7 linked regions of the Homo sapiens genome follow. The protein of the gene in region 6 interacts with the protein of the main gene of each other region in a pairwise test. Each region holds a gene or a part of one and is shown on either strand. Other genes may lie near its edges. The genes, in order: CBLL1, ZNF473, RBM12B, TBC1D22B, ZNF317, RBM10 and ZFP64.

The links.
Region 1: the proteins of RBM10 (region 6) and CBLL1 interact in binary tests that used the Homo sapiens proteins (3 or more experiments, as listed by UniProt).
Region 2: the proteins of RBM10 (region 6) and ZNF473 interact in binary tests that used the Homo sapiens proteins (3 or more experiments, as listed by UniProt).
Region 3: the proteins of RBM10 (region 6) and RBM12B interact in a two-hybrid assay, tested with the Homo sapiens proteins (3 studies listed by BioGRID).
Region 4: the proteins of RBM10 (region 6) and TBC1D22B interact in binary tests that used the Homo sapiens proteins (3 or more experiments, as listed by UniProt).
Region 5: the proteins of RBM10 (region 6) and ZNF317 interact in binary tests that used the Homo sapiens proteins (3 or more experiments, as listed by UniProt).
Region 7: the proteins of RBM10 (region 6) and ZFP64 interact in binary tests that used the Homo sapiens proteins (3 or more experiments, as listed by UniProt).

Annotation. Positions count from the first base shown.
Region 1 is NC_000007.14:107,757,642-107,761,141, reverse strand, and holds part of CBLL1 (E3 ubiquitin-protein ligase Hakai), read right to left. Parts: intron 3,000-3,500; coding exon 1,964-2,999; 3' UTR 1-1,963. UniProt on the Homo sapiens protein: E3 ubiquitin-protein ligase that mediates ubiquitination of several tyrosine-phosphorylated Src substrates, including CDH1, CTTN and DOK1. Targets CDH1 for endocytosis and degradation.
Region 2 is NC_000019.10:50,032,505-50,036,004, reverse strand, and holds part of ZNF473 (zinc finger protein 473), read right to left. Parts: intron 1-3,500. UniProt on the Homo sapiens protein: Involved in histone 3'-end pre-mRNA processing by associating with U7 snRNP and interacting with SLBP/pre-mRNA complex. Increases histone 3'-end pre-mRNA processing but has no effect on U7 snRNP levels, when overexpressed.
Region 3 is NC_000008.11:93,734,510-93,738,009, reverse strand, and holds part of RBM12B (RNA-binding protein 12B), read left to right. Parts: exon of another isoform or gene 1-654; 5' UTR 655-703; exon of another isoform or gene 704-1,571; 5' UTR 1,572-1,599; coding exon 1,600-3,500.
Region 4 is NC_000006.12:37,281,772-37,285,271, reverse strand, and holds part of TBC1D22B (TBC1 domain family member 22B), read right to left. Parts: intron 3,088-3,500; coding exon 2,908-3,087; intron 2,391-2,907; coding exon 2,320-2,390; exon of another isoform or gene 2,259-2,319; intron 937-2,258; coding exon 808-936; intron 1-807. UniProt on the Homo sapiens protein: May act as a GTPase-activating protein for Rab family protein(s).
Region 5 is NC_000019.10:9,146,897-9,150,396, forward strand, and holds part of ZNF317 (zinc finger protein 317), read left to right. Parts: intron 1-3,500. UniProt on the Homo sapiens protein: May function as a transcription factor. May play an important role in erythroid maturation and lymphoid proliferation.
Region 6 is NC_000023.11:47,179,721-47,183,220, reverse strand, and holds part of RBM10 (RNA-binding protein 10), read right to left. Parts: exon of another isoform or gene 3,440-3,500; intron 3,342-3,439; coding exon 3,181-3,341; intron 3,010-3,180; coding exon 2,912-3,009; intron 2,803-2,911; coding exon 2,715-2,802; intron 2,007-2,714; coding exon 1,820-2,006; intron 1,715-1,819; coding exon 1,575-1,714; intron 1,473-1,574; coding exon 1,355-1,472; intron 1,271-1,354; coding exon 1,179-1,270; intron 1,060-1,178; coding exon 895-1,059; intron 1-894. UniProt on the Homo sapiens protein: Binds to ssRNA containing the consensus sequence 5'-AGGUAA-3'. May be involved in post-transcriptional processing, most probably in mRNA splicing. Binds to RNA homopolymers, with a preference for poly(G) and poly(U) and little for poly(A).
Region 7 is NC_000020.11:52,181,780-52,185,279, reverse strand, and holds part of ZFP64 (zinc finger protein 64), read left to right. Parts: intron 1-3,500. UniProt on the Homo sapiens protein: May be involved in the regulation of mesenchymal cell differentiation through transactivation of NOTCH1 target genes.

The sequences.
Region 1 (3,500 bases), on a different chromosome or scaffold from region 6:
AAGAATGGTTTGGATTTTTAACAGTAATATTTTAATAGCTCCTAAACAGGGGGATGAAAAGGAATCAAGTTTGCACCAGTCCAAGTACCTACAGTAATATGATAGAAGCACTCACCACCATTTCACACTATCACTCCCATGCTTTTAATAACAAGCATTTCTCACTAGAAATATTGCATTAACACTGGACTTTCAAACTGCTAAATGTAGAAAATCACTTGCCTGACTTAAAACAAAAAAGTTTATTAGTTATTTTTGGCCAGTCAAGGTTGAAACGGCCATTTTGTTATTTCTAACTTCTGCTCTAGGGTTCAGAAATGATTTTGCATCTGATCATTCAAGATGAGAATTTGTTTCACCTGTACCTGACAGAATAAAATGGTAAATTAGCAATCAGATCACCCTTTGTCAAAAGAAGTATGTTCTAAATGTATACACTACAAACTATCTAATAAATGATATCTGCATACTACATATTTCATGTTTTATTATGCACCATTTTAGTGGGGAGGAAAAACTTCACAGGGATTTATTCAAAGGATATAAATAATATCCTAAGAATGTTGATTTATACATATGAGTTCTGTATAAACTGTTAAGTGGTCATCTTAGCTAAACTATAACAAGCCCCTATAATGTAAAAGCTGACTCGAAAGGCACCATGTAAAGCACTGAAATCCACAATTTAGCTGTTATTTCCTCTTCTCCAATACAAAATTATCTGGTAGTCTTCACTGTTGACTCCATGATAAAATGTTCCAAATTCAGACTGCTTTACCGACAAAAGGAATAGGAAATAAAAGTTTTTAAATTTCAAGTTAGAGGAAAAATCCTATCACACAGCAATGAAACCTGAGCAAATGCAAATTTGTGATTACAAGAATATGTCCTTCATTAATATATTATTCAAATTCCTCCATGGCATTCAAACTGTAGTTGAAAATCCTATAAACAAGAACCCACTTAAACACAGCATCAAACTCTACCATGAAATGAAGAATTACATAAAGCCTATTCAGCCCTATTCAGTTTAAGACAATGAACAAAACAGAACACATTTCATCTAAAGAACACCATTTAAACCCATTTAAACAGTTCTATAAAATAATGTTACTTAAGATCAGTATGTGTGGTGCATATGTGATTCCGACCATTCAGTAAAAAAGCATTAATGAGTAACAGCATTCCCCCACCAGCTTGAAGCCTGTAGAGTTGATTATTTTGGCCATCTCTTTCCAAATAATTAGTAATGTCTTTTAACATTACGAACAAATATATCTTAGTACTAGAATTCCAATGTATTTTGGTGCTCCTGAGGCTGCCTAAAAATGAAAAGGCATCCAAGTGAAGTGCATTGTATACTTACTATACCTCGAAACCTCAACATTTCAGTGCCTAAAATGTGAAATAATTCTCTATCATTTAACAGTCTGCCTTACAGCAAATTCTAGTAGATTTTTACTTTCAGGATTTTATTATAACTTTGGGAAATTAGTGGTAAAACATATGGTTTAAAAAACAGTATGTGGCTGCACTTAAATTCACATAAAAATAGCATTTTTACAACCATATTGAAATTTAATCCTTTTACACAGGTTAACAAAATGTATCACAAGAAAAACTAAACGTTGGGTTTAACAAAACAATACTTTTGAAGTAAAACAATGAAAAATTTTTTCAAATTTTTTACAAATGGTCACCTCTGGGTCAATTTACTAAACTAGGGGAACAAAGAGATGTTAAAATATAGCTGTGCTCAACTGAGCCACTTATCTGTACTACAGTATGGTACTTGAAATCAATCTTAAGGTCAAGATTTAAAACCATTTTAAGAAACAAGACCCTATGTGTTTTATACTACCTCGATAAGAGGTACTCTTCCTTCCCAAAACAGTCAAAGCTTAAAAGATTGACTACACATAAGTTTTTTTCCCCCTCATATCTTCCATTCAAAATACTATTATCATTGGTAATACGGTCTATATCTTGTCTGATCTGGATGATGTGGTCCAGGAAGTGGGGTTTGAGAAGGCGGACCCTGCAATCGTGGAGGTGGTGGTGGCCCTCTTGGTGCAGGCCATATACCAGGACTCATTCCCCCTGGTTGTGTAAATGGAGGGCTCAGAGTTCCTTGATCTTCAGTGAACTGGGGTAATGAGTTAGGATTATAATGGTGAGGAGGGGGTGCAGTTACAGGTGGACCACCATGTTGAGGTGGGGGAGGTCCTGGAGGAGGATGATTCATATAAGGTGGCATCTGGGCAATAATATGTCCAGGGGGAGGGGTTATTGGTGGTGGAGCAGAGGTCATTGGTGGAGGTGGAGCTTGGCTATATACCAAGTGAGGAGTACCTGCAGCCTGGGGAGGATGTGGCATTGGATGGCTTATTGGTGGTGGAGGAGGTGGGGGTGGTGCATAATGTTGCTGTGGAGGCATAATATGATGAGGGTGCGATACCACTGGTTGACCCTGATATTCAGGATGATGGTGAGCAGGTGCTGGGGCAGGAGGTGGTGGTTCTCTAGCACCTGAATTTGAGTCATCCTGAATAGGGACGGTTATTAAATTGCTGTGTTTTCTTGTTGAAATACGAAAGGTTTCCTGACTGACCGATCGAGGTGGAGGTGGAGCCATGGACAATTCTGCTGGAGGAGCACGAATATCCTCATGTGGCTGATTATAGTGCTCATGTGGCACATGTTGCAAAGGAGGTGGTGGCATCATGATGTGCTGCTTTGGCGGAATATGGCTCATATGGTGCTTGTCTGGTGGCATTATAAAACGCTCAGGGATTTCAGTTGGTGGTGGGGCAATAGGAGGATGAACATTTTCAAGTGAAGCACGGGTAACAGGTTTTCCAGCTCTCATATGGCGATGGTTGATATGAGCCTGTAAGTCTCTCTGAGACAAATATGTTCTCTTGCACCCTTGAACAATGCTACACATGAAGAGAGAACCTCGTGTACACTGCTCAATTCGCTGCACAGGATCACTACAGCTAAATTAGAAGGGAAAGAAATGTGATTTACTAAAAGAGAATACAAAAAATTATGTAATTTTCAAAAATATGCTTGTTTTTAAAATTTGACTGTTACATAAAACATAGCAAAAGTCCACAATTAGAAGTTACAGTTATTCTACGCAAACCTTTAATCTTCCCTACTTTGTTGTCTGTTAGCCATTAAGATAGGCATTTCTGTCAACTTCAGAACTCCTAATATCAAACGGTATGTTTCAAGAAGAGACCTCATTCTTCCCAAGGCCTAGAATTTATCCAGTTTTCTCAAACAATTGTACCTTCTGCATCCATTTGCCAAAAAACCCAGCAAGAAAAAAACCAACGGGTAGATTACTTACAATCATGGAATTCAAACTAGTATGGTATTATTGAGTGATAACTGTTTGTTGAGCAAATAATACTAAGTGGAAAACAGTAAGTAGAAGACATTGCAAGGACTACAACAAGTAACATCAGCCTCATCATTAGGGTTCTTAACAT
Region 2 (3,500 bases), on a different chromosome or scaffold from region 6:
GCCTAGAAAACAGAGTCTCCCTCTCAAAAAAAAAAGAGTTTCAAAGGGGACAAACATTCCAACCACAGCACACGGTGAGTAGGTGGTGGGGTGGCACGAGCTCCCATCTGCTACACAATCCCCAGGAGGCTGACCTGTTAGAGGCTCAGCTTTAGAGTCAGACAGGTCCCAGTTCAAATTCTAGTTCTACTATCTATTAACTGTGGGACCTTGTTAGTCCACCTCTCTAATGCTCAGCCTGCCTCTTCTCTAAAATAAGGCTGCTATAGGATGAAGTGAGCTGATGCCTACACAGGGCTCAGCAGAGACCCAACTCACTAAGAAGCTGCTAAATAAGTGGTGCTTGTTGTCTACTTATCTGTCCAATGATGACCAAGCACCTACTACGAGCCAGCCCCTGTGCTAGGTACAGGAAAAAAGGGGGCAGCCAGTTCCTGTCCTTATGAGATTTAACCTGGGTGTGTTACATTGAATTACAATGAAAATGCTTTGTAAAACTCTTAAGAACAGCCAAACACACACACACACACACACACACACACACACACACACGTATGAAAGAACTGGTCACCTCTGAAGGATGACATGACAGAAGGAAACCAATTCCTTATAGTGAAAACTAGCAAATAAAAGGAGAGTCAAGCATTTACCCTACCTGTCCTATATGAACTCTACCGTCGACTAGACAAATAGTAGATAAATTTTTTTTTTTTTGAGATAGGGTCTCACTGTCACCCAGGCTGGAGTGCAGTGGTGCTATCACAGCTCACTGTAGCCTCAACCTTCTTGGGCTCCTGTGATACTCTCACCTCAGCCTCCTGAGTAGCTGGGACTACAGGTGCACACCACCACACCTGGCTAATTTTTAAATTTTTTGTAGAGATGGGGTTTCACCACGTTGCCCAGGCTGATCTTGAACTCCTGAGCTCAAGCAATTTGCCCACCTCAGCCTTCCAAAGTTCTGGGATTACAGGCATGAGCCACCATGCCCAGCCAAAGGATGTCTTGTAAAGTGTTCCAACTAATACATGAAAAGAAATGATAGCGCCATTTTGCAAGCCCTGATGAATGAACAGGTGATAAGGCAGAAAGCATCACTATCTGCCAGGACCACAAACAGGGGGCACAAGAGATTCTTGGTAAAAGGATTGACCATGAGTCTAATCAAGCCTCTGGACCTAGCTGCCAACTGGGAATAAACTCAACTGCACCACAAGGATGGAACCAGAGAAAACAGACTGAGGAATTCTACAGGTCGAACCATGCCAGTTCCTCAAAGGACCGAATAACTGTTCTCTAACTAACAGCTGAGAACAGAAGGGGATGGAGGAGGAACCCAAAGATTAAGAGACACAGAAGACATTAAAAAACAAGAAGGGGCAAGGGATTGTGCATTTGAGTAATAAAGCAAGTGGTAATCATAAAAATCAGGTTACTTATTGGGGATGCGAGAGGGCTATGACAGAGCCCACGAAGGACTTCTGGGGTGGATGGCAAAAAAAATTCTCACTCTTGATCTAGGTGGCGTTCGCCTTCATTAGGTCATGCATTTGATGTGTGTGCATTTCTGCACCTGTGATTTTACAATAAAAAAACTTTTTTAAATTAGGCATATACTAAACAGCATCCTCCTCTTGCTGCTTCGTGGGAAAAGACAGAAGGTGAGAAGGGCAGAAGCAGGGAGTCAAAGGAAAAAGGCCAGTTTGATAATCCAGGTGAGAAATGGTGGCAGCAATGGAGGGGGTGAGAAGTGGTGAGATTCCAGATATTCAGATAACGGTGCTGACAAGGTTTCCTGACGAATAACATGGAGGGTGTGAAAGACAGAAGACCCTGGGATGGCTCTACGTTTTTAGCCTGAACAGCTGGAAGGACAAAGTTGCCACTTACTGAGACATAGGAGAAGCAGCTTTCAGGACAGAGTCTGAGTTTGGTTTGGGACATGTAAAGTTTGAGATATCCTGTAGATTGTCATGGCCGAATAATGCCGCCACCCCACACAAAGATGTCCCTGTCTTAATTCCCAGAACCCATGAATATTATCTTACATGGCGAAAGGGACTTTGCAGCTGTGATTAAGAATCTGGAAATGGGGAGATTATCCTAGATTATCTGGGTTGGTCCTAAATGTCATCACAAGGATCCTAATAAGAGGGAGACAAGGAATCACAGGAGAAAAGAGGTGATGCCATGACAGAAGCAGAGATTAGAGTGATGCGGCCAGGAGCCAATGAATATAGGCAGCCTCCAGAAGCTGGGAGAGGCAAGGACTGAATTCTTCCCTAGGGCCTCCAGAAGGAACGCACCCTGCTGACACCTTGGTTTGAGCCCCGTGAGATCATTTTGGGATTCAGACCTGAAGAACTGTAAAAGAATAAATTTGTGTTGTTTTTAAGCCCACAAGTTTGTATTATTTGTTACAGCAGCAGTAAGACCCTGAAACAGTCGTCCCAGTGGTGATGCTAAGCAGGAATTGGGTGGACGAGCAAGGGGGATCCTGTTTCCGCTTACAACAAATCCTGTCCCTCCTCTGCTCCAAACCCTCCAACGGCCTCCGGATTCACCATATTTAAAGACAGAGACCATACAATGATCTCCAGGGCCCTAAAGATCTGGCCCCAGCTGCCACTCAGGGCTCACCTTCTCCCCCTTTCCTGCTCATCCACTCTGCTCCAGCCACACCAGCTTCCTTGCAGCTCCCTGAACACACCTGCCAGACCCCATCTTAGAGCCAAGATTGTGTCCCTCAGTTCTCTGCTGAAATGCCTCTTCTCCATGAAGCCTTCTCCCACCCCTCTGTATAAAACAGCAAATCTACCCTGGGCCTCCCTATCCCTTTCCTCCATAATCCTTAATACTGCCTGCATTCTATGGGATTTACTTAATGCATTTTACTGTGTGGTATGGGTTGAACTGTAACCCTCTAAAAAGATACAATGAAGTTCTAACCCCCAGTACCTCAGAATTTGCCCTTATTTGGAAATGGGGTCTTTACAGAGGTGATCAAGCTGAGATGAGGTCATCAGGGTGGGTCCTAATCCAAAACGACTGAAGTTGTTATAAAAAGGAGAAATGGGGACACAAAGACAAACACAGGCTGAGGGAAGACAATGTGAAGATACAGGGAGGACATCCTGTGAAGATGAAGGCAGAGATTGAGGTGATGCCTCTCCAGGCCGAGGAACACCAAAGCTGGCCACCATCTGCCAGAACACAGGGGAGAGGCCTGGCTCACAGCCTCAGAAGGATCCAGCCCTGCCAACACCCTGATCTTAGACTTCTGGCCTCCAAGACTGGGAGACCACCAATTTCTGTTGTTTTCAGCCACCCAGTGTGTGGTACTTTGTTACAGCAGCCCTAGCAAGCTCATACACTGTCACCCGCAATAAAGTAAGCTTCATGAGGGCAGGAACCACCTAAACCGTTTCCCTAGTCCAGACTTACAACAAAGCCCACTCATGACAGGCACAGAGTAAATACTTGTTGAATGAGGCAAAGCA
Region 3 (3,500 bases), on a different chromosome or scaffold from region 6:
TTTTAAAAATTGATTTTTGAATTTCAGGCTTTGCTGTTTTATTCATTTATTGTGTAATTTTGAATGGTTGCCTTAATTTGATTTGGTCTTATGTTTTGAAAGGGAGGAGAACAGCACGAGAGTTGGATATAAATATGTACTAGATTTTTGGATTTTCATGTGGCAAAATGATTGAAGTTCTTTTTTTTTTTTTTTTTTTTTTGAACTTTGGGTATTGAGATTTTACTTGTAGAACAGTTTTTTGAAGTAGATGTAAAACTTGTGTACAGCAAAATGTATAGACCCTAAGGATAGAATTCAGTAAACCTTGATAAATTTATACACCCATGTAACTACTGCTGCATTCAAAATATGTAACATTTCCATCACTCCTTTCTTCGTGCTACTTCCAATCAAGAGCAGTTGTTAAATTTTCGGCAAGTTTCAAATTTTTAAATAATTTTTATATGTCTATTTGGATATTGTATCTCCTTTTTGCAGAAGGATGATTAATTTCCCCTTGGAACAAAAGACCATTTTGTAACACCCGTAATTGTGGTTCCTTATTCTGCTTCACTTTTGATAGGTAATTCTGAAATGGATATCCTACTCTGGCGTTGTTTAAGATAAATTACAGGGTTCAAGGATTAATTATATTTCATTTTCTTTCCACAGTTAAGTTGCTTTTACAGAGTTAACAGGTCTCCAAGAAATTTTAAAAAAGGTAAGATATCCAGAGTTTAAGGCTTTGAGGCTCAACAAAAAACATGTGAAGTAGAATAGTACATCTAGGTATCCATGGCTTCTGTTCTTTTTTTTTTAAAAAGACAGGGCCTCACTCTGTCCTCCAGGCTGGAGTGCAATGGCACAGTTGCAGCCCATTGTATCCTGAAAATTTCAAATTGGGCTCAGGCAGTCTTCCTGCCTCAGCCTCCTGAGTAGCTGGGACTACAGGTGCATGCCACCATGCCCGGCTAATTTTTTCTTTTTAGAGACGGGCTCTCGCTCTGTTGCCAAGGCTGGTCTTGAACTCCTGGCCTCAAGCGATCCTCTTGCCTTGGCCTTGCAAAGCCTGGAATTACAGGCATGAGCTATCATGCTGGCCCTGGCTTTTGTTCTCTGTGTCTGGCCAGTGGTAGGCAATTTATTATCATGAGCAGAAATTATATACTAACCATAGATGACTTTTCTAAATATGTAAAATTCATTGCAGTTGATAAAATAATCTACAAAGCTCTCATGTTTCAGTAGAAGATAAGATTCTAAATGAGTCTGAAAGTAGTTTGGTCTTGTGAAGCAGCATTTGGCAGACTTACAAAGGAAGATTTGATATTTTTGATGTTCCTATTGTATAGAATAGGTGATACGAAATGTTTCTTCAAGGTAGTTGGTTTATTTGTATTTTTAGATGGGAGAAAGTTTATCCCTTGTTTTCTTTAATAATTAGATATGATCAGTATTTTTGTGAACTTGTATCTTGTTTTCATTTATAAATGTTGAAGAAAGCAGGAACCAGGTAATTATTAAGCTTAGTTTGGGCTAAGGTACTTCAAAAATAAGACTTGCTATTATGTGTACCTTTTTGTCTGCAGGTCATTATTGCTGTGGTTTGAGCTCAGCATGGCTGTAGTCATCCGTTTACTGGGGCTTCCTTTTATTGCGGGGCCTGTGGATATTCGTCACTTCTTCACGGGATTGACTATTCCTGATGGAGGAGTGCATATAATTGGAGGGGAAATTGGGGAGGCTTTTATTATTTTTGCAACAGATGAAGATGCAAGACGTGCCATAAGTCGTTCAGGAGGGTTTATCAAGGATTCATCTGTAGAGCTCTTTCTTAGTAGCAAGGCAGAAATGCAGAAGACTATAGAAATGAAAAGAACTGATCGTGTAGGAAGAGGGCGTCCAGGATCTGGGACATCAGGGGTTGACAGCCTGTCTAATTTTATTGAGTCTGTTAAGGAAGAAGCAAGTAATTCTGGATATGGCTCTTCAATTAATCAAGATGCTGGGTTTCATACTAATGGTACAGGACATGGTAATTTAAGGCCAAGAAAGACAAGGCCATTGAAGGCCGAGAATCCTTACTTGTTTCTACGAGGTTTGCCTTACCTAGTAAATGAAGATGATGTACGTGTCTTTTTCTCTGGTTTGTGCGTGGATGGAGTAATTTTCTTAAAACATCATGATGGCCGAAATAATGGTGATGCCATAGTAAAATTTGCTTCATGTGTTGATGCTTCAGGAGGTCTTAAATGTCATAGAAGTTTTATGGGTTCAAGATTTATAGAAGTAATGCAAGGATCAGAACAACAGTGGATTGAGTTTGGTGGTAATGCAGTTAAGGAGGGTGACGTTCTTAGGAGATCTGAAGAACATTCTCCACCAAGAGGAATTAATGATAGACATTTTCGAAAACGGTCTCATTCAAAATCTCCCAGAAGAACACGTTCTCGTTCCCCTCTTGGATTTTATGTTCACTTAAAAAATCTGTCCCTCAGTATTGACGAAAGAGATTTAAGAAATTTCTTTAGAGGTACTGATCTGACTGATGAACAGATTAGGTTTTTATATAAAGATGAAAATAGAACAAGATATGCCTTTGTGATGTTCAAGACTCTGAAAGACTATAATACCGCTCTGAGTTTACATAAGACTGTTTTACAATATCGTCCAGTTCATATTGATCCAATTTCTAGAAAACAAATGCTGAAGTTCATTGCACGTTATGAAAAGAAGAGATCAGGGTCACTAGAGAGAGATAGGCCCGGACATGTTTCACAAAAATACTCTCAAGAAGGTAACTCTGGCCAGAAACTGTGCATCTATATAAGAAATTTTCCATTTGATGTTACAAAAGTTGAAGTGCAGAAGTTCTTTGCAGACTTTCTTCTTGCTGAGGATGACATTTACTTGCTTTATGATGACAAAGGTGTTGGTCTGGGAGAAGCATTAGTGAAATTTAAATCAGAAGAACAGGCCATGAAAGCTGAACGTTTAAACCGACGAAGATTCCTAGGGACAGAGGTGTTATTAAGACTTATATCTGAGGCACAAATACAGGAGTTTGGTGTAAATTTTTCTGTGATGTCCAGTGAAAAAATGCAAGCTCGCTCACAGTCACGTGAGCGAGGTGACCATTCCCATTTATTTGACTCAAAAGACCCACCAATATACTCAGTTGGTGCTTTTGAAAACTTTAGACATCAGCTAGAGGACTTGAGGCAACTGGATAACTTCAAGCATCCCCAGAGGGATTTCCGGCAGCCTGACAGGCACCCTCCAGAAGACTTCCGACACTCCTCAGAGGACTTTAGGTTCCCCCCGGAGGACTTCAGGCACTCCCCAGAGGACTTCAGGCGACCTAGGGAGGAAGACTTCAGGCGGCCTTCTGAGGAGGACTTCAGGCGCCCTTGGGAGGAAGATTTCAGGCGCCCTCCGGAGGATGACTTCAGGCACCCTAGGGAGGAGGACTGGAGGAGGCCCCTTGAGGAGGACTGGAGGCGGCCACTGGAGGAGGA
Region 4 (3,500 bases), on a different chromosome or scaffold from region 6:
AAAGTTCTTACTTCTGTTACCTAAGACATCACTATAGTCCATTTCAACTCAGGGATTTCCCAGTGCCCAGTCTAACTATGCAAAAGACTGTGTCAGCAGCAGCAGCAGCAGAGGCTACTTCAGTTCTTGAGGCTTGTTGTAAATAGCTGCCCACCTTCCACTTTCTGCAACCCCTGGCCTACTCTTCTCCTCCCTCCACATGTGATGTTGGGAGCAGACCTTTCCGCAGACCATGAGGACCATTATGGGCAATGACAGAAGACTCCCTGACAAGACTACTGAAAGCTACAGCTCCTACAGTCACAGATGCCAAAACAGCAGTGCAGCTGCCAGGAAGACATACTGATGTCATAGTCCAGAGGGACTGGACCACGGCTAGGTAAGCTTGTCTTTCCTCTCCATGCTCGATAACGCTTACTACTCACAGTGTGGTTGGTGGACCAGCAGCAGCAGCATTGCAAGGGAGCACATCAGAACTTCAGGCTTTACCTGAGACCTGCTAAATCAGAATCTGCATTTTCTCATAATCTCTAGGTGAGATCTTATCAAGATCCTAGGTGATTTGTATGTACATTAAAGTTTGAGAAGCAGTGCACTGACTAGTGCCAAAAAAGTCTGTCTATTTAAAATGGCTAAAATCAGAGTTGCTGAATGAAAAGAGGGGAAACAGTTTTGAGGATAAATTTAACTCCTAACCAATATACCACAGCCTGAAGACTTGGAAAGCCTGTACCCTGAGAGCACTACCATGAGACATACCTAAAGTATATGACTGGTAAGCAAAGAGGCAGCAGGTGGTGACTGTACCTGTCTGTAGGTATCCTGGTGATGTTCCTCGTTTCGAGAGTCATAATACTGTTCAATGAAGCCAAAATATTCCTCCCGCTTCCGCTGCAGGGTCAACTTCCTCCTCTCAGTGTTTGCTGGGAGATAGCCCTATAGACAAGACTGCTGGTCAGATGGGGAAAGACAATGGTTGGATAAATCCTTAATTTTTATTTTAATCTATGCAGTGGTTTGGAAACTACCAAGAAGGAAAACTGCCAAGGGTAAATCCCTTTTTGGTTCTGGCCACCCATTTTTTGCCCTCTCCTCATTCAATGAGATCCACATGTGAGCAGATGAAGCAAGGCCAGCTTTCCCAGGATTATTTACTCCCTTGGCCCTGCACTGTGCTGGAGCTTGTGCCACTGGTGAGCACTCCTCAGCTCCCAGAGCTGGCACAGTACAGCAGTGAATGTAGGTCAGTGGGAGGGAGCTGGACCCAAGTCATGGCCTCGGAGGGCTGTGTGTGTCCAGGGCCATACTTCTGAGAAATGCAGGGATATAGCAACCTCTACAGCACATCTCAGCAGTGTGCCAAGTAAGTTGGTGCCAGTTACATTCTTTTCCAGTGTAACTTTCAGAATTACCAGCTTAGGAAGCAGCTGAATGGAATCTGTGACATACAGCTACAACACTCAGACAGAACTTCTGGCAGCAGCCCCCGGCCTAGCCAAAGCTCCAGGCCAACTTTCATTCTTATCCCTGGTCTAGATCCCACTCTCATTCTTATATTTTCTGTTCCCCTTCCGTTCTCACCAAATCTACTCTGAATAGTATTCAAACTTATTAGAAGTGGCAGAGGCAATGATTGCATGGTTGCAAGAGTAGAGGTGGGGGCGAGCAGTCAGGAGACAGACCCTTCTTCTTGAAAACATTTATGTAATGCATTCTGCAGTGAGTGCCTGGAGAGTGGGGACTGTGGTTTATTCATTTTTGCATCTGCTCAAAGCATCTGGCACTATGCCTGGCAAACAGCAGGCTCTCAATAAATCCTCACTAGATGAATGAATGAATTTTACAGGCTCAGGAAACCCAAGTGTTTCTATCATAGCGGCTGGCACAGTGCTCTGTACTTGGTGAAAGCAGGACTAGTAAAGCTTCCAAGGGAGGCCAATTTATCAACTCTTCACAGATCAAAGTGGGTTTCAACTTTTGGTTATTCCGGCTGAAACAGGAGTGAAGCACAGGGAACGTTGGAGCTTACTCAAAGCAAGTGCTGGGATCACCCTATCTCACTCTATTCTTCTTCCTCGCTGTTAAGAACATGACACCATGACTATTGGTACAAGTCTGTGTACCACTACATGTGTGTGAATAAACTCTCAAGAATGTATTTCTTTATGCACAGAAATAGGACTATAGTCCCATAGTTCTGTCATATCCAGTAGGACTAGAGAAGTCTATGGAGTTAAGACCAATGTGTCCAGACTAACCTCATCAGGCAAGAAGGGCTGTGTGAGGCTCACATTTCTCTACACAGTGGGTAGAACTCACCGACAGGAGTCTCCAGGTTATAGGTCGAACCTCCCTGGGAACCCCTGGCCAGCTACACTTCCTCAGTTCATCTGTAAATAGAAAACAGCCTTGTTAGGTTAACTCTCCACAAATGCTCTAAAGCAAACCGCAACCAGCACTGCCTGATGTCTCCTTCCATCCATGTAAGACCACCACCACCACCTGCTACCCATAAGCACAGTGAAAAGCCCAAAACAGCCCCGAGCAGCTAAGTGCCAAGGACACGGCCTTGCAGTAGCAGTCCTGTCAGCTCAGAGATGAAAGTTAGAGGGGAAGGGAAAGACCAGTGGGTGTAGATTTCAGTAAGAGTCACCTTGAGATAAGGAAGACCAAAGTCAGAATAGTTGCACTAGGGTCTACAGGCCACAGAAACCAGTCCCACCTAATTTGGTCCATAATCTCTAGTAACATATGTCTGACTTAATACCTGCATGTCACTGCAATGGGCACCAGGTCAGGAGAAGCTAGAAAAGTAAAAGAAGGAAGAATAAAGAGCAGTAGCTTCCAGGTCTCTGAGAATTCCAGTCACCCAAAGCTCCTACCTTGCCTGGGCTCACAGGGACTCACCTAAGTCAGTGTTCTGGCTGGAGAGAAGTTGACGGAATTTTTCTAGGCGGGTTTTCTCCCGGACAGTCATTGGGGGGGCCCCAGAAGCGTTCTGATCCGAGATCCGGGCAACGAGGGGGATGATGGGCCGGAGAGGGAGTGATTGCTGTTTGTGGAGTGGGTTCCTCAGGCATGTATCACCTGAGATCATTTGAAAAAGAAAGAGAACGGGCTGTGTGAGGAGTATGGATTCTGAGAAGCCTTAAACCTAACCGTTCAGCATTGTGTTTCCTCCCCAAGGGTGTGGCTGCCTGTGTGCACTGTCTGAGGTGCCCAGCTGAAGGGCAGCGAGGGGCCAGAACCCAGCCACACCCCATTCACTGCCCAGAGAAAGGGCTGCATTTATATCAAACACACCAAGGCACCTTAGGTGGTAACAGAGACGCCAGATGCTGCAGCAACTTTTGAGAACTTTTTTGGTGACTCTAAAGGTGCTAACAGAGACTCCAGATGCTGCAGCAACTTTTGAGAACTTTTTTGGTGACTCTAAAGGAAAATCAAATGTTTTCTTTCTACCCTAACTTGGAACTTTTCTTGGTGCCAAATAGTGAGTT
Region 5 (3,500 bases), on a different chromosome or scaffold from region 6:
GAGAATTATGGTCCTGAGAAAGCTCATAATGGAACAGTTTTGGGCAACATTTGTTTTGGACCACAAACTTGATGGAGGAGGCAGATCTTCTAAAACTGAGGAGCAGGGCTGGAGCAAGGGTGAGGTTTGTGAGTGCAGAGCCAGGGAGCCACTCGCTCTGAGCCAACCTTGTGCTTGTCTGACACCAGAAGTGCTTCCTTAAATACCACACTCTTGTCTAGCAGCCTTGGTTGCCTCATCCCAGTCCTGGCCCTGGTGAGGAGAAAAACAGATCCCAATGAGAATAGAGTAAGATGTGTAGAAATAGAAAAATAGAACTGCTTTCACCATGCTGTAAAGAAAATTAAAAGAGAAATTAAGCAACCCCAACAGCTCTGAAAAATTAACCTGTCCGTTCTAACTCATCCATGGTGACAGCATTCCAATGACACTGGTTTTTTTTTTTTTTTTTTTTTTTTTTTGAGATGGAGTCTCGCTCTGTCGCCCAGGCTGGAGTGCAGTGGCACAGTCTCAGCTCACTGCAAGCTCTGCCTCCTGGGTTTCACACCATTCTCCTGCCTCAGCCTCCTGAGTAGCTGGGACTACAGGCGCCCGCCACCGCGCCCGGCTAATTTTTTGTATTTTTAGTAGAGATGGGGTTTCACCATTCACAGGATGGTCTCAATCTCCTGACCTCATGATCCGCCTGCCTCAGCCTCCCAAAGTGCTGGGATTACAGGCGTGAGCCACCACGCCCGGCTGATCCTGGTTTTGTTTCATGTATCATGTAGAAACGGGGCAGAACGTCTCTGAGTTCATAGATCCTACAGCTGTTCTAGACACCCTGCTCCACATCCTGCTGGGGTCGCTTAGATGCTGAAATCTTCCTGCTTTATTTGTATTCATGGCCACCAGTTCTTTGAGACTCTCTGATACAGTTTGGATGTGTATCCGCCCCCTCCCCCCCTCCAAATCTCATATGGAAATGTAATTCCCAATATTGGAGGTGGGGCCTGGTGGGGGGCGATTGGATCAGGGGGGCAGATTTCTCATGAATGGCTTAGCACCATCCCCCTTGGCACTGTCCTCGTGATGGCGGGTGAGTTCTCCTGAGATCCGGTCATTTACACGTGTGTGGCACCTCCTCCCAACCCTGCTGTCTTGCTCCTGCTTCACCATATGCTTTGCCTGCTTCCCTTTTGCCTTCTGCTATGATTGGAAGCTTCCTGAGGCCTCCCCAGAAGCAGATAGCACTGTGCTTCCTGTAGAGCCTACAGAACTGTGAGCCAATTAAACCTCTTTTCTTATAAATTACCCAGTCTCAGGTATTTCTTTATAGCAGTGCGAGAATGGACTAATACACCATCACCCAGCACTGACAACCCCTGAAAGTGATAGAATCACTCAGGTGAGAACTTGGCCAGAAGCTCCACTCTGAGCTCTGGTTTGCATCGTTGCAAAACATCGACAAGGTTCCACAGACTGAATTGATGTGGGTGCGCTCTCTAAGCTCCAGCCCTCTGGACACTTTGTCCTTCATGGAGGGTGGTGGTGGATGTTGGCCCCAGGGTGTTGGGCTAAGCCATAGGGCTGTGTCCTAGTACCTGGATTACTGTTTAATTTCACAGGACCTTCTGAGGAGATCCCAGACCCCCTACATTCCATAGGCCCCTCCTTTATGGTCTCCCAAGGTCTGGGTGGCTGTCTCAGTATGAAGGCAAATGTAGATCAGCTTGCTCATCATCCATTCATTCTTTCATTCCCTACTTATTGTCTTATTTATATCAGGCACTGGAATGGTGAATGAAATATCATCAAAGTAAAAAGTCTCTACTCACCTGGAATGTATTTTCTAGTTGGGCATACAGGAAATCAAAACAAGTAAACTACATAGTGTGCATGGAGGAGACAGCAGAGAGATAATAATGCTTACCCGGTGTTCTGTGTCCTGTCCTACATTTCCCAGGATCCTTGGAGCTGGCAGGGGCATGTGACTAGTTCTGGCCAATGGGCTGCAAGTGCTTCAGGGTCAAAATATAGACGACAGAATGCATAGTTGTCCAGCTTCCTGCTCATCATCTATGACCAACATGGCCAAGGGTATCAGTTGGTTCAGAGACAAGTGGCATCCTTGAACAACAGGAAAACTTTTGACATCAGCCTGGGTTGAACAAGTGACATGAGCAAGGCGTAAACTTTCCATTTTATTGAGTCATTGAGATTTGGGTTTGTCTGTTTTTGCAGTAAAAAATAGAGCCTAATCTTACACAGAACATTACTTGGAAATTAGTGCTTTAGGGAAAAAGAAAAGGAGTGGAGAATTGGGATTGAAAGAAGCAGGGGTTTGCATTTTAAAAAGTGGCCAAGGCGGGTGGATCAGCTGAGGTCAGGAGCTCAGGACCAGCCTGGCCAACATGGTGAAACCCTGTCTCTACTAAAAGTACAAAAATTAGCCGGACACAGTGGCACACCTATAGTCCCAGCTACTTGGGAGCCTGAGGCGGGAGAATCACTTGAACCCGGGAGGCGCAGGTTGCAGTGAGCTGAGATCACACTACTGCACTCCAGCCTGGGTGACAGAGCGAGACTCCATCTCAAAAGAAAAGAAAAGAGTGGCCAGTGAATGCCAGATCAGGACAGGTAAAGTTGAATAAAGATCTGAAGGATGAGAGGGGGCCAGGCACACTGAGAATGTGGGGGAAACATTTCAAGCAGAGGAGCAGCAGGTGCACAGACCCTGAGGTGGGAGCATGGCTGGCGGGGCCTGATGCACAGCAGTGAGGCTTCTGTGGCTTGGGTGAGGGACCAGTGGCAGAGCGAGTTGTGGGTGAGGCGGCAGGGACCTGGGCCCTTGGTCTGAGTGAGATGGGACACCATCAGAGGATCTTGAACAGAGGAGCGGTGTGATCTTCATTTTACCCATAAAGTTACGGCTGTCATGGAAGCTAAGGGAAGTCAGGGACAGCAGCTGGGAGACCAGTTAGGAAGCAGTTGGAATGTTCTAGAAGAGAAGCGATGCCTTATGCCAAGGCAGTAGCAGTGTAGGTGGTGAGAAGCAACCAGATTTTTGTATTAAGTTTTAAAGTTAAGGCTGGCAGGATTTGCTGGTGATGCAGGTGTGGTTTATGGAAAAGAAAGAGGAGAGTTGAAGGTGATGACGAGCAAGGCTTTTGACTTGAGCCCCTGGGAGGCTGGAGCTGCCATCAACGTGGGGAGGCTGGTGGCAGCACAGTTGTAGGTGTTTAATGTGGGATCCTGTTGGCTGTTGCAGTAGGGATACTAAGTAGCCACCTGGCTGCCACTCACTCTGAGTCATTCTGGGTGGGGCAGGTGCCAGGGAGCGGAGAGTGGCACCCACTATAAATGAACAATTCTGTTAAGTAATTGTGAAATCGTCAGTGGTCATTTTATTTTAATGATAATGGCATTTTAGAGTGAATGTTTGTTTACTGAGCCTATAGAGTTCCATACATAACCCAGTGTTAAAGTCTTCAGTTTCCAGATGAGAAAACTGAGTTTTG
Region 6 (3,500 bases):
CTCCATTTAATGCCATCACTGAGTGGGTTCCAGATAAAAAGGGGGAGTTTGGCCCAATTTTCTCTTGCTCTCATGCATGCTCTCTTGCCCTTTGCCATGTTATGATGCGGCAAGAAGGCCCTCACCAGATGCCAACACCACTGGGCTTCCCTGCCTACAGAACTGTGAGCCAAATCAATCTCTTTTCCTTATAAATTACCCAGTCTGTGGTATTGTTATGGAGCAGCAAATGGATGAAGACACTCCTCTTCCCCTGACATACACCCACGCTGTCACATTTGTTGTGCATTTCCATTTTATCATTTAAAAATGCATAGGAATGTTTATTTGTGTATAACTTTATATGCATGACACAATGCCACATTCTATATTTCCATGTTCCCCCCAGCACAGCACCATTTTTAGAATTCATCAGGTTGCTAAGGTAACACTTAGTGCTTGCTTGTAAACGCTACGCTCACAGTGTCACACCCTTTCTCCACAGAGAGACACTGAGGTGCCCTCCATCTGCCCACTCCCACAAAACATTGCAGGGCTTTTTTCCTGCCCACCCCCTTATGGCCTGTGAGAATTTCTCTGGCATACATGTATATTCACCAGCAGAATGTGAGGGTCCCCACCATGGGACAGAAGACACCTGACAGGGCTCACTCGGATGGCACAAGCCACCTCCTGGAGTTGGGCAACCCTGCCACACACTGAGGAGACTGCTCTGGCTCAAGGCCATTCAGCAAAGAGCAGAGCTGGGGCAAGAGCATGGTCTGCTAAGCAGTCACTGCCCACATCCACACCTGCCCGCCATCTCCCTTGGCAGGAGAGGGCAAGAGCTGACAGAGTGCCGTTGCTGGAAGACACCACACAGCCAGCCAGTGACTGCTGGACCCTGGTGTTCACCTGTTGAGCTGTCTTGGTCTTGTGCTTCTCCTTCTTCTCTTTGCCCTCCTTCGAGGGTGCCCCTGTCTCCTTATGTCCGTCGGCCGACTGCTCCAGGGCGGGAACATAGGTCCGCCTCTCCCCATCCCAGTACAGGTACTGCTGGCTCTGAGCATTGTAGTAATACTGAGGGAGGAGGAGGGAAGAGGGGATGTGAGGGAAGACCTTGTGAAGGGAACCTGCAGGGCTAGCTGTTCCTGACGCGACCTGACCCGATCCCATCCCTCCCTGGGCTGCCCTATTACCTGGGAGTTGGGGTCATAGTAGAGGCCGGTCTGGGGGTCATAGTAGTAGCCGGAGGTCTCATCGTACTGGTAGGTAGAGACGTCGGGAACAGCTAGGGGGTGAGGGGAACGGGGTCACACTATTCCCTGCTTTATTAAGAACTCCCCACCCCTACCCACAGGCTGTGGCTACTCACGGTACTGGCTGTAGGATTCCTGGGCAGTGGGGCTGGTAGCCGGTGGGAGAGCAGAACTAGGATGGGTAGGGCTCTGGAGCTCAGATTTGAGCACAGCGGGTGACATGATGGTATACGACTGGTCATGGGGCCAGACAGGAGAACAGGGCTCAGTGTCTGCCCATGCCACCCCTGCCGCCTGCCTGCCTCCCCGGGATACATACCCACAGGGCTCACTCACCTGGCTGTTGGCAGCAGTGCCCTGGCTACTGCTCGCCTCGGCTGATTGTTGGTAGATGCCAGGAGCAGCACCAGGCTGGGCGCGAGAGAAAGCCTGCATCGACACAGAGTCGGCCCCAGGCTCTAGGGAGGCCTCGGGACCTGTAAGGAGGGACAGGGCAGGGACAATGCCTGTGAATAATGGGGCCGGGGACTTTATGCCTGCTGGCCCCCACCACAGCTGCAGAGAGAGATGCTGGGGCTCACCTGCTCCAGTGGGATCCCCTTTGGTTCCAGTGATGCCAGGGCCCTTGGTGCCCTTGAGGTAGCCATGGGCATAGAGGGAAGACTCTGTGCCCTGGCTGTTGCCATAGCCCTCATCCTGTTGGTAGTAGCTGTAGTCGACCGGCGGCTCCTCGGAGGTGGCCCAGGTACCCTCCCCACCTTGGGAGGCCTGAAGGGCAGGTGGGAGGGGTTCATTAGAACAGGAAGGTGTGGGGGTGGGGGGTGGGGAACCTGCTAGAAGCATCTGTCCCACACGTGGGGCTAGTATTTCTACCTGACAGACAAAGCATGCAGCCTTAAGACAAGTGGAAAGCGAGGGTTGCCTGGCCACAAGAGAACAAATAGGCCAGTGGCAAACACAAGACAGAAAAACAGATGAACGCCAAAATGTTCCAGGGCTGATTCTGCTGATTCTGCTGTGTGTGGCGTGTGTGTTGGGTGTCAGGCCAAGGAAGACACCATCTTCTTACTTCTTTATTCTCTTCTCCCAATTTTCTCTCAACCACTTATACGTTATTTTTATTCAGGAACATATGATACGTGTATATCATATATGTATATATTACATATAAGGATATGTGTATATCATACCTATTCAGGACAATAAAAACCCCACCAAACAGCACAGAATGCCAGGCACAATGGCGTCGTACATGAGCGCATGGGAGGCAATTGGGAAGAAAGCTGCGGTGATGATGAAGGGGAATGTCCCAGGGGGTCTAGAGAGCCAGGAGCAAGGTAGAATAGCCATGCCAGCTACTGGGAGAGGGTTTTGCATCCATGGATAGCAAGCCAGCCTTCCTGCTTCAGAGAGGGTGCAGGAGGGTTGAGAAAGCCCAGGTCTCAGGACGCTGGGAGGCACAAGGGGTCTGAGTACCTGTGAGATGGCCCACTGGGCCGCAGCAATGGCAGTGCTGGCCACAGAGGCAGCACTGATGCGACTGCCTTCATTGGAGGCCATGTCCCTGAGGAGGATGTTAGAGACTGGGAGTGAGATAGGAGGCCCCAAGCGGTAGGGGGGAGTGGGAGGGTGGGGAGGGGAAGGGTGGGAAGGCACACAGGTGGGGCCCTGACCTCTTAGAACCCTTGGCAAACTCAACATTGATGGTCTTGCCGTCGATAGTGAGTGGTGGGTGCAGGGCCTGCAGGATCTGCAGCAGCTGGGCTGCCTCCTGTGGGAGGAGGGGAGGCAGGGACAGAAGGGTCAGGCCCGGGGAGGCCCCCGGCTCCATTGCCCGATTTCCAGGCTGGCAGCCGCGGTGGGAGGCTGGGGAAAAGGACCCTCGTCTCCACCCCGGGGGCCGGGACCCTGGCTGCCCGGCCCCCAACTGTGCCGCCCTCACCACGATGGTGGAGAGCTGGATGAAGGCAAAGCCGCGGTTCAGTTGGGTCTGCTTGTCCTTTATGACGCGCACGTTGGAGGAGGACAGCACCGCGTAGGGTGCCAGGGCCCCCAGGATGGAATCCATGGTGCTGTGTGGGTTCAGGTTGCGCAAAATGATGGCTGTGGGAAGGGGCCCAATGTTAGAGGACACCCCTGGCACTCTTGCCAGCCCTGCCCTTCAATGCCCCCACTGCTCCCTTTCCTCTGCCCCCACTCACTCCGTGCCTTTGCAACTGCCGCTTCCCTCACTGCTTCCTCCAGGATCAACTCTGCTTGGCG
Region 7 (3,500 bases), on a different chromosome or scaffold from region 6:
GGCCGAGGCGGGTGGATCACCTGAAGTGAGGAGTTCATGACCAGCCTTGCCAATATGGCAAAACACCTTCTCTATGAAAAATACGAAAACTAGCCCAGCGTGGTGTCACGTGCCTGTAATCCCAGCTACTCGGAAGGCTAAGGCAGGAGAATTGCTTGGACCTGGGAGGCAGAGGTTGCAGTGAGCTGAGATCGTGCCACTGCACTCCAGCCTGGGCAACAGAGTGAGACTCTGTCTCAAAAAAATAAAAATAAAAAACTTCATAAACAAATGTACAAGGATATTCATTTACAGCATGTACTATAGAGAAAGTGGAGCCTTTGTATGTATACGTCAAGAGAGAGTTAGGTATGGCCAGGTGCAGTGGCTCACACCTGTAATCCCAGCCCTTTGTGAGGGCAAGGCTGGAGGATCACTTGAGGCCAGGAGTTCAAGACCAGCCTCGTCAACATAGCAAGACCCCACCTCTACATTAAATTTTAAAAATTAGCCAGGCGTGATAGCACACACTTGTAGTCCTAGCTGCTCAGGAGGCTAAGGCAGGAGGCTCGCCTGAGCCCAGGAGTTTGAGGCTGCAGTGAGCTATGATCGTACCACTGCACTCCAGCCTGGGTGACAAATGAGACCCTGTTTCTTAAATAAAATAAAAAAGAGGGATTTAAACAAATAAATATCAAAGATTCCAACAATGGAATATGACTTAGCTTTGGAAAGGAGGAAAGTTGGATCTGTGTGTAGTCACAGAAAGATTCTCAAGGTAAGTATAAAAAAAATACATATGCCTACATATTATATGGTCTTATATTCCAGGGAAGTTTCTAGAACAGGGATGGGGCGGTAATGTAAATGAGAGAAGTTATCTTTGGGGGAGGTGTTAGAGAGTGGTGGGGACTGTGGTGAAGTAGAGAAATCACACATGCCTCATCCAAAAGTGCAGCTGTTCTTTGGATCCAGCCAGTTAGATATTTCAGTTTTTCAGAGAAGCTGAAAATGTGAAATTTTCCAAATATAAAACTTTGTTGCCAAACAATACATCTCTGAGCCTGACTGAGTCCATAAGTTTCTTCTAGCTTATTCTCAGAGAATGTTTACCCAATAGTCTGGAGCTGAAGAGTGAGGAGCATCAGACGTCAGGGCCAGGCGCAGTGGCTCACACCTGTAGTCCCAGCACTTTGGGAGACCGAGGCGGATCACTTGAGGTCAGGATTTCAAGACCAGCCTGGCCAACATGGTGAAACTCATCTCTAGTAAAAATACAAAAATTGGCCAGGCATGGTGTCACTCGCCTATAGTCCGTGCTACTTTGGAGGCCAAGGCACGAGAATCTCTTAAACCCAGGAGGCAGAGGCTGCAGTGAGAGTGCCACTGCACTCCCCACTGGGCAACAGAGTGAGTGAGATTCCATTTCAAAAAATAAAAAGGAAACCAACTTTCCCCTTATGAGGTATCTACTAGGGTGATGTTTGAATTTTTTTGGCAATAAGCAAAGTTTTGTGGGTTTTTTTCTTAATGCATCCAAAATAATGTTTCTACTGAGTTTTTTAAACAGTAGACATTTTGAAATACAATAAAACTGATCCCCTCACAAACCTTAACAAAAGTATGTTGAGATCTTCCCACTGTCTCCTGAGTTTATCTTCATTCCCATCTTAAAGGAAGTCACCAAGAAAAGGTGAAAACCAGAAAACCCTTAAAAGTGGGCCTGGTAGGACCTAATTATTTTGCACCAGGACCAAGCAAAGTTGCCTTTGGGGAAGGGACATGGCCAAGGTCCCATCGGAACTTCAGGACAGTCCTGGGACATGTGTTTTGCCCCTTATCGTAGTGGTCTTCTTCATGAGGACAGTGTTTCCTTTCTTGTCCTCGAAAACCAAAATCCCAGAACCTCTCACAGTGGATGGGAGCCATATAAAAATGGATGCCCTGCGTGTGGGAGGCTTCCAGGCCCACACTTTTTACTTGGGGCCATTGCTTCTTTCTGGGCTCTGAGCCTTCGTGGATGCTTTTTCCTTTGCCTGAAATACCTTTCCCACCTTGGCCTGGCTGATGCCAACTCAACCTCAAGGCCTTAAGTTTCATGACAATCTTCACAAAAAAGGGTCTGCATTCTTCCTGGGGACAATCCCCTTCTCTCCCCTCTATATTGCAGCAGCCATGATGAACTCCTTTCTGTTTCTGGAATGAGCCACATTTCCTCCAGGCTCAGACCTTGCCTGCATTGTTCCTTCTGCCTGGAACTGCCTTAATTCTTATGTCAGAGCTGGACTTAAAGGCATTTTCTCAAAGACCCCTTCCCTGCACGTCTCACTCTTTTCCCAGATCAGGTCATGTCCCATATTTAAATGATTAATAGAGGAATGACTTTAAGGTGTATCTCCATCACTGACCTGTAAGCCCCTCTCCTGTTCACCACTGGATCCCAGCACCAAGGCACTTATTATTTCTTGGGTGTGAACACTGCTCACATCTCATATGCATCAGTAAAGCTGACCTCACAACCAAATAGCGGCTCCCTTTTTTGTCCTCCTAGTTTTTTTGCTTGTTTCTTTGTTTTGTTTTTTGAGACAGAGTCTTGCTCTGTTGCTCAGGCTGGAGTTCAGTAGTGCAGTCATGGCTCACTGCAGCCTTGATCTTCTGTGCTCAAGCAATCCTCCCACCTCAGCCTCCCAAGTAGCTGGGACTACAGGCCTGCGCCACCATATCCAGCCAATTTTTAAATTATTTATAGAGATAGGGTTTTGCTATGTTGCACAGGCTGGTCTTGAACTCCTGGGCTGAAATGATCCTCCCATCTTGGGCTCCCAAAGTGCTGGGATTACAGGCATGAGCCACTGCACCCAGCACTTCTATTTCTTTGTTCAAAGAAGTTCACCCTCCTCTTAGCATTTACACGGCCCTGCGACCATTGGATCTTGCCATGCCGGAGTTTTGTTGACTGTCCTGAATGCTCAGGCCAGTCCTGGAGTCCTGTTTGTGCCTGGCACACAGAGCCCTCCCCTGCACAGTGCTGAAGGGAGCCACAAGCTCAGAGATAGACTGCTGGACTCGCATCCCAATCCACCACCTAACAGCCCTAGGCTGTGAGCAAATCATTTACTCTCCCTCTCACTAAACAGTCCCCATCTGTAAAAAGAGGTTATAATACCTAATCATCATTGCGTTATTGTGAGAATTCTGCGATAATCCACATAAAGGGCCTGAGATGGAGAAATTGGGTTCAATGAGCGATCGCTTTTATTAATGTAGAGTCTAATAAACAGGTGGCGAAAGGATGGTGAGATCTGCAGCTTGCGTTGTCTCCGTCTGACTCAGCTGCTCCTCCTGATGGTTCCTGCCTCTGTGCCAACTAAACAAGCAGAATTCTGCTTTCTTTTCTTTTTTACACTTATTAGATTGGTTTTCTGGGTGCAATTCCTCCTATTGTGCTTCAAGTTTCCATTGACTGGCAGTTCCCAGACCTGCCTATGGACCAAGATCCCCTGGGAGCTTGTTAAGGATAC